Linked DNA regions of Homo sapiens. The protein of the gene in region 2 purifies or fractionates together with the protein of the main gene of each other region. This does not show direct contact. Each region holds a gene or a part of one and is shown on either strand. Other genes may lie near its edges. The genes, in order: TMPO and PFKP.

Region 1 (4,546 bases), on a different chromosome or scaffold from region 2:
CCCAAAAGAACGCTTCAGAGGTTTGAAACTCAGAAGGCACCACCAAAGTTGTGAAAGGAGCAGGGCTGAACACAGAACTGGTTTAAAGCATGTAAACAGAGAATTGTTTGTTTTAGGTTCCCTCTGCCATATTATATGCAACCAGAGCCATCACTTCTCAGCTGTGTGCAAACATGAAGAAGCTTCCTAACACCTCTAACCATCAGTTTCCTCATTTGTAATGATATTACGAAAATGCCTACTCCATAGGATTATCGTGAGGATTGAGTGAATCAATACATATTAAGCACATAGAAAAGTACCTAGCACATGGTAAGCATGCAATAAAACTTGTTGTTTTAAGCCTTTGATGCGATTTGCCTTATAATTAATTATGGTGTCTATACTACCTTGAGAAACACTAATTTAAGTCAAATCACCTCTGGGGACACATGAATGAGGAAGACATAATGGCACTTTCATCTTGTGAGCACAGCTCCATGACGTATCACAGTGACACGGGCTTAGTCTCAAAGCAAGACTAACAATCATAAGGGTCATAGGTAAATACTAAAGACAGTAAAAGTGGTGGGAAAAAGGAACTAGGTGTGGGAGAGGTGCCTTGGAGCGCTTAATGTCATTCTGTGAGTACAGTAGCTACACATTGCTTACCTTTGAATAAACGAGAACCCGATTACAATAAGAAGTAAAACATATGAACAGACTGAAATAAAACACAATAATCCATAAATATCACATAAGAAATGTTATCCAGAAATCACAGTTTGTGCTATCTGAAAACCATTTATTGCAACGACAAAACTAGAGGTTAATTACTTTTTATTATTGAATTATATTGTAAAGTCTACATCTACAATTTAATCAGGAAGAAATGCTTTGCATTTACATCAAGGACACATTTATTCTAATGGAATAAAACAGACACACACAAAAGACCAAGTACATGTTTTTAAAAAATGACTACATGTTTCACCTGGTCCTATTTTTGCTATTTGGACCATACTTTTAAGTGAATTGATCTTACATACATGTTAAGTCTGATTTATCTCCCCACATTTTTAAACACTAAATGAAGCTTCTCACAATTTCTAATTATAAACAAAAGGCTGAAAACAGTATGGGAAACAAAGTTTCAAAACAAAGAAAAGTTGAGTAAAAGGTGCCCCCTCTATGGCTCATCTGAAAGAAACATTTTACTCAGAGAGGCAAACATTTCTGATCTAGGAGTAAGTTTCCCACTCACTTTGCAAGGACCCACTCATTCTGCAGAAAGACCTACAAGTCTTTCTGGTCTCAATTGCAAAGTACGTGAAAATGTGTATGAAAGATCTAAAAGCTAAATATTAGAATAAGGCTAATTGAAATCAAAATTGTGTGCTGGTCTAAATATACATCTTCGGCTTCTTCCTTTTTAGTAAGTATTTTTATTTCAGATGTATTTAAAAATAACTTACATTTTTAGTGTGCTTTATGGTCAATGACTGTAAAGTTGAAACTCAAATGAGTCAGTTTAAAATTTTTGTCTCATTTGATTCTATTGAAATTTTAATCACCTACTACTTTAATCAAGTTATTCATGAGGTAAGTTTCAGCTTAAAAAAAAAAATCATCCACAAAGATAACCATTTCAAGAGTACACAAAATCATAATGCCGGCCGGGTGCAGTGGATCACACCTGTAATCCCAGCACTTTGGGAAGCTGAGGTGGGCTGATCACTTGAGGTCAGGGGTTCGAGACCAGCCTGGCCAACATGGTGAAACCCCGTCTCTGCCGAGGCAGGAAAATTGCTTGAACCTGGGAGGCAGAGGTTGCATCGAGCCCAGATCGTGCCACTGCACTACAGTCTGGGTGACAAGAGTGAGACTCCATCTCATAAAAAATAAAAAAATAAAAAATAATCATAATGCCCACCTCTTAAGAGTATACAACTTTATTAACTACTGCTTATGATGTAATATAAAAGCAAGTACTTTTTGTACTTTTTTATTTTTTTTGAGATGGAGTCTTGCTCTGTCGCCAGGCTACAGTGCAGTGACGTAATCTCTGCTCACTGCAACCTCTGCCTCCTGGGTTCAAACGATTCTCCTGCCTCAGTCTCCCTAGTAGACAGGACTACAGGCGCACATCATCACGCCCAGCTAATTTTTTTGTATTTTTAGTAGAGACGGGGTTTCACCATGTTGGCCAGGATGGTCTTGATCTCTTGACCTCGTGATCCACCCGCCCTGGCCTCCCAAAGTGCTGGGATTACAGGCGTAAGCCACCGCGCCTGGCCCTTTTTGTACTTTCTAATCAAATTATGCTGGGAAATATAGGGCAAAAAAAGCTCGGCAAAATTTGTTTCTGGTAACAAGACAATGCAATAATGAATCCAAATGAAACATAAGACCAGTGTTTACAATTTCTAACTTCTAAACAAACATACACACACTTATCTAAAACATATTTTGGTAGCAAACTGGATGACTGAATAAATGTTTTGCTGTAAATAAAAAATACAAATTTCCAATTATAGCCTTATAGCTAGCTAAACAGCTTTTCAAAACATGTACAGCTAGCCAACAATTCTCTAAAATATGTATGTTACACTAAAAGATCTCTGCTAAAAATCTACTGTATGTAAATGGGTCTTACTGAAATAGGACTTTCATGATACTGTGTCTTAAAAAGTGAGTATGATAGGGCTACAACAACATTACTATTAATAAAGGTTACAGAAGAGATTATTGCTGTACTTTTCCTCATAAACACCATCAAACTTTGTTGCAGTTACAAAAAGTACAACCAAGTTACTTTTCCTCTTACTGAATTTCATTATGTTTCACATATTTGCAGTTTTTATTCAGCAGAGAATAATTCTTAAAATCTTTTCTGTAAGAATTCTAAGTATTTAAATGTGTAGCTTCACATTATACTACCATGTTTCACCCTTCGTTTCCCAAATACACAAAAAACATATACATTTTTTCAAAAATGAAATAAGATGCCCACATTAAAAAAATAAAGCCTACAAAAAGTTCCAGAGCTAAAAAAGATTATTCATATGGCACAAAGTGATCTCCTACTAGTCCAAAGTTCAAAAACATTTTAATGAAGTCCATTTATATATATTTTGTTTGCTTTTCAATGAAATACTACATTTATTGAGGCGAAATCACATTATTTTTAGTTCTTGGAGTCAACAAGTGTACACAAATGTTTTTCAACAGTTATTGAAAATAGGAGACCAAGTTGAACGTGCCAAAGAGATACCATTCAGTTGGATTTTCTAGGGTCAACATGAAGAAAATTAGAGAAGGGATTTACTTGGTTGGTTTCCATAGCTTGATAGACCAAAAACAAAAAAACTGCCACAACAACAAACAGCAAAATTTTTATCCATACGGGAATGGAGCGTCCCTTTTTTGTCTTTTCTGACTTGACATCTGCCAAGGGAACATACTTAGGAACATATTTAGATGAAAAAGACTCCTCCATCCTGAAATCACTGAGTTCTAATGGCCGGCCTGCAGCCCCTTTGATTGGTCTGCGGCAACTAGCACTGTTGGGAGTGAAAGGAGGAAAAGAAAAATAATTTTAGATAAAGGCATGATTTAGAGAAATAACATAAAATGTCATTGCCACTCCTAATTCCAAGCACATTCCCTGAGGTAACAGTAGAAAATTGATACATATAAAGCAGTGAGGTCAGTCAACCTATTTAAAACTTCTACATATTTTCTATTTTAAAAGTTAGATGGGCTGGGCATGGTGGCTCGCGCCTGCAATCCCAGCACTTTGGGAGGCCAAGGCGGGCAGATCACCTGAGGTCAGGAGTTCAAGACTAGCCTGGCCAACATGGTGAAACTCTGTCTCTACAAAAATACAAAAATTAGCCGGGCATGATGGTGGGTGCCTGTAATCCCAGCTACTCAGGAGGCTGAGGCAGGAGAATCGCTTGAACCCAGGAGGTGGAGGTTGTAGTGAGCCGAGATCACGCCACTGTACTCCAGCCTGGGCAACAGAGCAAAACTCCGTCTCAAAAAAAAAAAAAAAGTTCGATGCATCCTTTATTAGAAAAGAATATTCAGAACACTGATAAATAGTCACTAAACCTGCCTTCTTAAAGGCTCTTCAAAGCTCATGTTTAGGAGTAAAGAGGAAAAACAAAACAGTTTTGGCTGTGTTTCTTTCAGTTAAAAATTAAGATACATAAACACAGCCTTTTCAATTAGAAAAGAGAAACTTAGGGGGGAAAAACTATTTCTCACTAGATTTTCGTTTAGATTTTAACATATGAATTTAAGTAGTAAGTAAGTGATTTATTTAAAATCCTCCATTTACCAATCGCAATTTTGAAACTCATTCAACTTTCAAGAATATTTACTGGTGGGCTTAGGGGAATTAAACTGCTCCCAAAAGAACAGTTCGTTCACTTATTTATTTAAAAGTCGGTGGGTAGACAGAGTCTCATTATGTTGCCCAGACTGGTCTCGAACTCCTGGGCTTAAGCAATCCACCTGCCTTAGTCTCTTGAGTAGCTGGGACTACAGGCATGTACCATTG
Region 2 (7,787 bases):
GACATAAGTACTCTTCGTGGTCTACGGGAGAGTACAATATTTGGAATTAAGATCTGTTTTGCTCCTATCACAATCACGTATGCACCTCATGCCCTTACCTAACTTACTTTTCTTTCTGAGTCTTTCTCCCCACTTCCAAAATGAGGACACGCCTCTCTTGGGATCATGTATTTAGGCTTGGAGATAAGAAGTGTAAAGCTCTTAGAATACAAAATGTTTTCAACAAATGGTAGCTATGATCATCTTAATATACGGAATTTTACCATAATTTCACATCTGACAGAAAATTCCCCTGAAATTAATACGTGAATGTGAATATGTTCTCTCATCTCTAGCTACAAGCAATAGTCTTCTATGTCAGGGAAAATCAAGTACTAACATAGAATCAGAATAAAATGGTAAAAGAATGGGGACACTGAGATATTCTCGAGGAATAACCTACTTACTGTAAGGGTTTGTAAATCTGTGGCAGCTAAGACCAGGCCCTCTGAGTACATCTGGAGGTGAACTTCCTTAAAAGAAATGCGTCCAAATGCTCCAACAGGTTCAAGATCGTATCACCGAAGGGTAAAGCTCTTTACAGAGTCTACAAAAAAATTGTGACTTCAGCTCTGCCAGGGAAAGAGTGCCCAGGCGACCCGCCATGGCGGGCTTCCCCAGGGACAGCCCAGGTGTGACCCATGTGGGCTCGAGGCCACCATATTTGATGCCACCTGCAGAGCTGAGGGCAGCTGTCTCCTATTAACCCGAGGTTGCAGCAACCAAGCCGCGTTCCCCACATAATATTGGTTTCCAAAGTATCATTTTCCCCAGAAAAGAAGAGGCGTGGACTTACTAACCTTCAATATGTCTAACTCCTCCCAGGTGGCAAAACCAGGGTAACAGAGAACACCGCGATTCTGCCAATGTATCCTAATCTCACATGCCTGTACACAAACTCCCGCGCATTTTAGCAAGCTTTTGGACATGGAGCTCAAAGGAATGACCCATAAATATTTTCCAATACATGCAGTATCTTAATTTTTTTTCTTTCTTTTTTTTTGTAGACACAGAGTCTCACTATGTTGCCCAGGATGCTCTGGAACTCCTCGGCTCAAGCGAGCCTCCTGCCTCGGCCTCCCAAAGCACTGGGATGACAAGCATGAGCCACCGTACAAGGCCCACAGCACCTAAATTCCAAAATAACCTTGAAACCCTGACTTTCCACCCGCCCTGGTGGCTTCCAGAGATCAGTTCCTCTTCCTGTGCCAAAGGTTTCTTGTCTTTCGCGGCCCAGGTAAGGTCACTCAAGGTGCTCCCTCTGCTTCTGAAGGCCTTTGACTGAGAAGCCACTCTGGGTCCTATCCCGACCCCAAGGCGGCTCCATTCGTACCCGCACATCTCCGGGCCGGTTTAAGTCACGCGGGCCAGGCTATTTCCACTTCACTCTCCTGTTTCTTCAATCCCATCCTCTGCTGCATCACGTTTTCTTTCTCTGAGAACCCAGCCCTGCAGGAAGAACGTTGATGCTGGGGTCCTTTTACTGGAATGCTAACGCCAGAGCACTTCCCGGGGGCGCTGCAGGGCGGGCTGCGGGGCGGGGCCTGGCGCTGCCACCCGGGTCTCCCGCGGGGGGCGCTGGGCCTGGGGAGGCTGCGCTGCGGGCCTGGGGAGCGCGCGGCGCACGGGTGTCGGGGCCGGGGCTCGTGGAGACGACGGGCCGGGCATCACGTAGGCGCTCGTGGCGGGCGGGGCGGCGCCCACAGCGCCTCAACCTGCGGCACCCGCGCCCGCCCCGCGCGCTCAAGGGCGAAGGGAAGGTCACCCGCGCAGTGGGCAGGGGGTGCATCCCCGCTCCAACCCTGTGCAGTGCGCGGCCCCGAAACGGGAGGAAATCCGCCATCCGGGCCTTTCCACGCATCTGCGGCAGGAGGAACCGGGAAAACAAAAATCAAAACCCAGCTCGGGGCGCGCCGCGTCTCCAGCCTGCGCGATCGCTAAGGCTCCCAGGTTGCGTTCGCCTGGGAAGCGCCGATCTACCCGCCAGGGATTGCACGGATCGGGACACTCCATCATCCGGGCACCGGCGCCCCCACGTGCACCCGGGGCCTGGGGCGCGCCGAGTCTCCGCCACCTTCCGCTCTTCAATGTTAAATATCCTCCCGGCGCGCCCGCGTCCGTGGGCCCAGCCTCGGGCCCCTCCTAGAGAGCAGCTTCCACATTGCAGGGCAGGGAAGCCCGGAGCCCGCGCCGCGGCGCCGCTGACATCCCGGAGTCCCCGCTTCCTGATCCTTCCCGTCTGCGGAGGCTGGCGGGGAGGGCCTGGGACCCATTTTGGTTTTCGTTTTTGTCACGAGCCGGAAGGCGACAGCACATGCGAGCGCAGGAAACCCTTTTTAAAAATCTCCCAGCGGAAACGCGAGGGGCTGCCGGACCGCCCTGGAGACGCCAGGCGGGAACCCCGCGCACCCCCGCCGCGTCCCGCATTGCAGCAGCCAGGACCCCGCCCACGCCGCGCAGGGCACGAGGCGACAGGAGGCGCGCGGGGACCCAGCCGTTTCTTCCTCGACATTCTAGGGGGTGGCGTGCGGCGGAGTTGGGGGGCGGGGGGGCACTTAGGAAGTGATCGCGCTGTACCCACGCTTCGGAGGGGACGCCCGGCCCCGTCCTACAGCTCAGAGGCAGAACGACCCCCGAGGGCGCTTCAGGCGACTCCCTCTGCCAGGTTCCATTTAAAACAAAACCGAAGGTGGAAAACTCACTGATCTTCCGGATGGAGGTTCCTACCGCCATGTCCCTTCCTCCCCCGCCCCACCGGGCAAGGACCCCGGGGCTGCCTCGCCGGCTCATGCCGCCCCGCAGGTACCCCTGCCGCTTCCGGGCGCGGGCTTCTTCCCGGTTCTCCCCATCGCTTCCCCGCTCTTCTCCCCGGTTCTCCCCATCGCTTCGCCACCTTTCCCCGGGTCCCCCCCATCGCTTCCCCCCTCTTCTCTCCGGTCACCCCATCGCCTTCGCCCGGTTCTCCCCAGCTCCGTCCGTCCGTCCCTCCCTCGCCGCCGGGAGGGGGGCGCGCACCTTGAGCATCCCCGCCGCTGGTCAGCACGCCGATGGCCTTGCCGGCCCCGGAGAGGTGCTCCAGGAACTTCCGCAAGGAGCCCTTGGGGGCCCGGGAGTCGTCCGCGTCCATGGCGAGGAGGCCGAGGGGAGCCGCACGTCCGGGTGCGCAGCAGGCAATGGGGACCCTGCCCGCGCGCGCCTGACTCGGAACCGCCGCCCCGCCCGCGCCCCCGCCCGGCCCCAGCGCCAATGGGCGGTGACGGGCGGGGCCCGAGCGTATGGGAGGGGCTGCGGGGGAGGGGGCGCGGGCGCGGCTAGGGGCAGGGGCCGGGGCTGGGGCGGGTGTGGGCAGGAGCATCTACGCGGGGGTCGTCGTAGGTGGGGGCCGCGCTAGCGGTGCGGGAGGCGGCAGAGGCAGGGGTAGCGCCACAGGTGGGCGGGTCCCTGCTAGTGGGGCCGCATCGCAGGTGCGCGAGCCTCGCGGGTGGGCTGGAGGACTCTGGTTGGGGGCTCTAGAGATGACGGGAGCGCCACAGGTGGGGCAGGGGCAGCGTCCGGAGGAGGGGAGACCGCAGGGGGCCGGGGTCACATCGTTTGCGGGGCGCGCCAGGGCGGGGCGGGATAGAACGCCGGGAGCATCTCCCGGGGGGGCGAGGGAGACCGTGAGTGGGCGCGAGCGCCGGGGCGGGTGGAAACCCCGCAGTTGCGGGGAGCGCCGATGGCGGGGAGGGGTGGAATGGGGGCGCGGAGACCCCACCTGGACGCGGAGGCTCGCGGCAGGCCCGGCCGCTCGGGCCGTTGTGGGGGCCGAGCCCGGCCGCGCGCACAGCTTCTAGTGGCCCGCAAGATTCCTCCTGGGGCGGCGCTGGGAGCCTCGGGGCTCGGCTTCCTCGACCCCCGCCCCCAGGTTTCCTCTGCAGCCTGAGGTCGGGAAGGACGGACGGAGAGTGGATCCTCCAGGTGGTGGGAAAAGGTGAGCGTGGCGGGCTGGGCCATGACGAAGCTGCCATTTCCCGGGCCCATGGGGGCTGTGGTGCTCCTGGGCCCCCAGCCCCGCCCTTGGGGGGAAGAAGCCGTGGGGTGGAGGAAGGTATCGGGGCGCGACCCTCAGAGACGCCCTGGCGGCGCCCCGGCCTGGGCGCTGGAAAGTCAGAGTGGGGCAGGAGGAGGCGCAACAGGACTGGCCTGGCGGGGAGGCGGGGAGGCGGGAGGACCCTCCCTCCCCACGGACACGCGCGCTGCTGTACGCTCTGCCTGACCTCGGCCGGCTCCACTGGCCAGCTCCACGTACTGAAATACTCACATCCAATGCACTGTGCGGTTGCCCATCCACAGCTTAACAGCCTGGTGCCAGTTACCCTGCGATGGGAGAGGGGGCAGCCCCCATAGAAGCACGGGCTTATGGGACCCGGGTTCCTTCAGTGCTCACCCACGAAGAAGGGCTCCCAAACGGCCCCACTCGACGGCTCACCGGAGGATGGTCCTGCGCAGTGGGTGTTTGTTGAACAGATAAGAGACAACAAAACAGACTAAGAAGAGGCCTGTTCTATGAACCGGGGAAAGTGAAGGAATCACAAAGAGCGGCTCGCCTTAGGGCAATCCTGGGGAAAAGATGGAGAGGCATGGATTTTTCTTGGATGTGTGCCTCATCCTGGGGCTCATCCCTCTGAGCATCAAATATTCATTGCAAAAGAGGGGGAAAAACTCTGCTGCGGACAATGCTGGATGGTCTGATCTCTCCCTTGGCCAGAATTAACGGGGCAATTCCTAACCCCTGTTGGTCCTCAGAATCACCTGGCCTATGCACACTCCCGCTAAACCACTGAAGTCCAATTTCTGGGAGCTCAGCCAGGGAATGTGTATTTTTAAACAAGCCCCCTAGGTTACTCTGATAAGTGCAAAGTCAGAGAGCGCTGCTCTCATGCACTGAGCCTGAGCACTCTTCTATTAATAAAAAAGGAGAGGAGAATCCTGGGTTGGGTGCCCTTCGCCTTCTGGCGGCAGAAGAGCAGAGCCAGGCTCTAAGCACCTGCACCCACCGCTGGGCTCAGGAGCTGCGCTGGAGAATAGAAGGGCTAATTTAGTCATTCATGCCTTTTTAGAGCAAATTACATGTGGAGAGGGTGGGGCACACTGAATTTTATTTTAGCCAAATGCCCCTTATCTCCTTATGCAATTGATATTTTTATATTGAACATTAGAGGATTGGTCATTTGTCATCAAGTCGTCTGTAATACAGAAAACGATAAATACAACCTAACAGTTCAAACATGACGAGTTAAATAAATGATGGTTAAAAATATACGCTGCGATAATATTTAATTGCTGTTACCACTACGAAGATAAGTGTCGACTGACATGGAAATATGTTCAGGTCAAACAAATAAATGAAAAGGCAGGCCTGGACACAGTGTGAGCCTGTGCTTGCATGTGCGCACGTGTGCGTGTAAGTGTGTGTGTGAGTGTGCACACACGTAAATGTTTCTGAGCATTTTATTTCCTTTCTTTTGCTTAGTATAGGTAATGCCATTTTTCTCTCCAATGAACAGGTATTGTTTGGGGAATAGAAATAGTTAATTAAAAACAATAAAATTTAGAGTGTCCAGATCCCCAGGGTTATGGATTATGTTCAAAAGTTTGTCTGTATGTAAGGGCTGGGGTCAGGGTGGTCACTGACCGTCCTCACACATCTATTCTCATGAGTTTGACCCATTGCTCAGTCAGTCAAGGAATTAACATATATTTATATATACCTGTAGCTAAGATGGAAAAGCATAGCTATGGCTCTTTTTTTTTTTTTTTTTTTTTTTTTTTTTTGCAAGTCGTGTATTTTAATGGTGCTACAACTAGAGATTTTTTTTTTGTTGTTTAATCTTTGGCCTGAGCAATGAATCTTCTAATTCAAGAGGAAGATACTGCATGCCTTGTTGACTGTACGGCTTCCACCCAGTAGGACCTGACATGTGTGTTTGTTCTTTATTGTCCCTTGACAGATTACTGCAAACTGTGGCCCACACCAGCACACACTTATACCACAGGAATGATTACTCCTTGGACCAGGAGTTCAGACAGGCTTCACTGGGCCCTCTGCCCCAGGGGCCCTCTGTGGCTGCAACAGGTGTCTGCCCAGGGCTACAGTGTCTTCTGAAGGCTCAGGCTCATCATGGGAGGAGCTGCTTCCACGCTCACTCCTGTGTTGCTGGCAGGATTCTGTTGCTTGCAGGCTGTTGGACTGAAGGCCCCAGTCTGTCCCTGGCATCAGCTTCAGGCTGCCCTCTGCCCTGGGCAGGTGACTGGCTTTGCCAGAACTAGCACATGTCAAGAGCCAGGGGGAGAATTCCAGTGGACGGAACCTGCAGCCCTTCCCAATCCAATCTCAGGAAAGACCGCCGTCTCTTTTGCCTGATTCTGTTCATTAGAAGTGAGCAACGGAGTCCAGCCCTCTTCGAGGATCTGGCTGTGAACACTAGGGGCAGGGGCCACGGGGAGCCACTGGGAGGGGAGGTGCTGCCTGGGACCTGCCTAGGACAAGGTGAAGGAGAACATGCATAGGGACAGATGCCCTTCCCACTTCCCCTCTGCGGTGAGCGCAGGAGCTGCCCATGTGCCCTAAAGGAGTCCTGCCATCCCAGGAGGAAAGCAGCTCCTAGCCATGAGGGCACCATAACCCTGTGTTCCGGCATGTTGGGCTGCACATTCCACCACCAGGGCTACCTGAGCTGCAGCCTCTTCCCTTCCCCTGCTGTTTCTGCCTGTGCATGGAGTAGGCATCTCAAATCTGCAGGGGCCAAACTGAGCTTAGGCCTCTGCACCCCCACGCAACCCCCCACCCCTCGGTCTTCCTCACCTCAGCTCCTGGTGACCCCATCCTCCCAGGGTCTCAGGCTGAAGCCTTGCAGTGCTCCTCTACCCTGGCATCCAAGTCTCTCAGGAAGGTCCCTCCTGGCTCTTCATTGCATCTGGAGCCACTGGGGCCAAGCTACCACCTGTGACCTGGACTGACACAGGCTCCCTCCCCATCCCCTGCTCTGCCCCCACCTCCACCCCACCTCCATGCCTCGGGTGTCCTCAGCTTCAAAGTCAGGGTGCACCTATCAGGATGTAATTCAGGCATCTCCTCTGCTGACTTGGGAGTCACAGGCCCCACACATGGCCCACTGGTCCATCGGATCCTAGTGCTGCCCAGAGACCCATGCAGGCACCCGACAACCTCAGGCCCAGCCTGCTCTTTCCTCAGCCCGGGCCCTCCTCTCCCTACCCACTCTTCCCACCTTCCTCAGGTCTGTCCTGCAAGGTCTCCTGCATGGTGAGGCCTCCCCAGATCACCCTGTTAGAAATTCGGGCTCCATGCACACTCCTGTTCCCTCCCCGCTTCTCTTAAAACAGCCTCATGCGTGTCACACGTGGGGCATTTCACCTATCTGCTGGGCTTCTCGACAGGCCCCCCTGCTGAACTCTGAATGCTGTGGATTCAGAGATCTTTGACTATTCCCTGTTGCAGGCCCAGGGCAACAGCAGAGCCCAGGACAGAGTGAACCTGCCATGGGTGCTGCTGAATGAATGGAGTGAGTGAGTGAAGGAGTAAATGAGTGAATGGGTGAGTGAGTGAGTCAGTGAATGAGTGAGTGAGTGGATGAGTGAAGGAGTAAGTGAGTGAGTGGGTAAATGAGTGAGTGAAATGAGTGGGTGAATGAGTGAACGTGAGTGAGTGAATGTGTGAGTGAGTGAATGGGTGAATGAATAAGTGAATG

Evidence for each region.
Region 1: the proteins of PFKP (region 2) and TMPO fractionate together in Homo sapiens (co-fractionation; 2 studies listed by BioGRID). This does not show direct contact.

What each region holds. Positions count from the first base shown.
Region 1 is NC_000012.12:98,546,569-98,551,114, reverse strand, and holds the end of TMPO (thymopoietin), read right to left. Parts: intron 3,543-4,546; coding exon 3,257-3,542; 3' UTR 764-3,256; downstream 1-763. UniProt on the Homo sapiens protein: May help direct the assembly of the nuclear lamina and thereby help maintain the structural organization of the nuclear envelope. Possible receptor for attachment of lamin filaments to the inner nuclear membrane.
Region 2 is NC_000010.11:3,062,975-3,070,761, reverse strand, and holds the start of PFKP (ATP-dependent 6-phosphofructokinase, platelet type), read right to left. Parts: upstream 3,215-7,787; 5' UTR 3,167-3,214; coding exon 3,055-3,166; intron 2,793-3,054; exon of another isoform or gene 2,773-2,792; coding exon of another isoform or gene 2,742-2,772; intron 2,136-2,741; exon of another isoform or gene 1,841-2,135; intron 1,574-1,840; exon of another isoform or gene 1,381-1,573; coding exon of another isoform or gene 1,373-1,380; intron 1-1,372. Other genes in the region: wiskott-Aldrich syndrome protein family member 1-like, read right to left, coding at 3,622-4,059. UniProt on the Homo sapiens protein: Catalyzes the phosphorylation of D-fructose 6-phosphate to fructose 1,6-bisphosphate by ATP, the first committing step of glycolysis.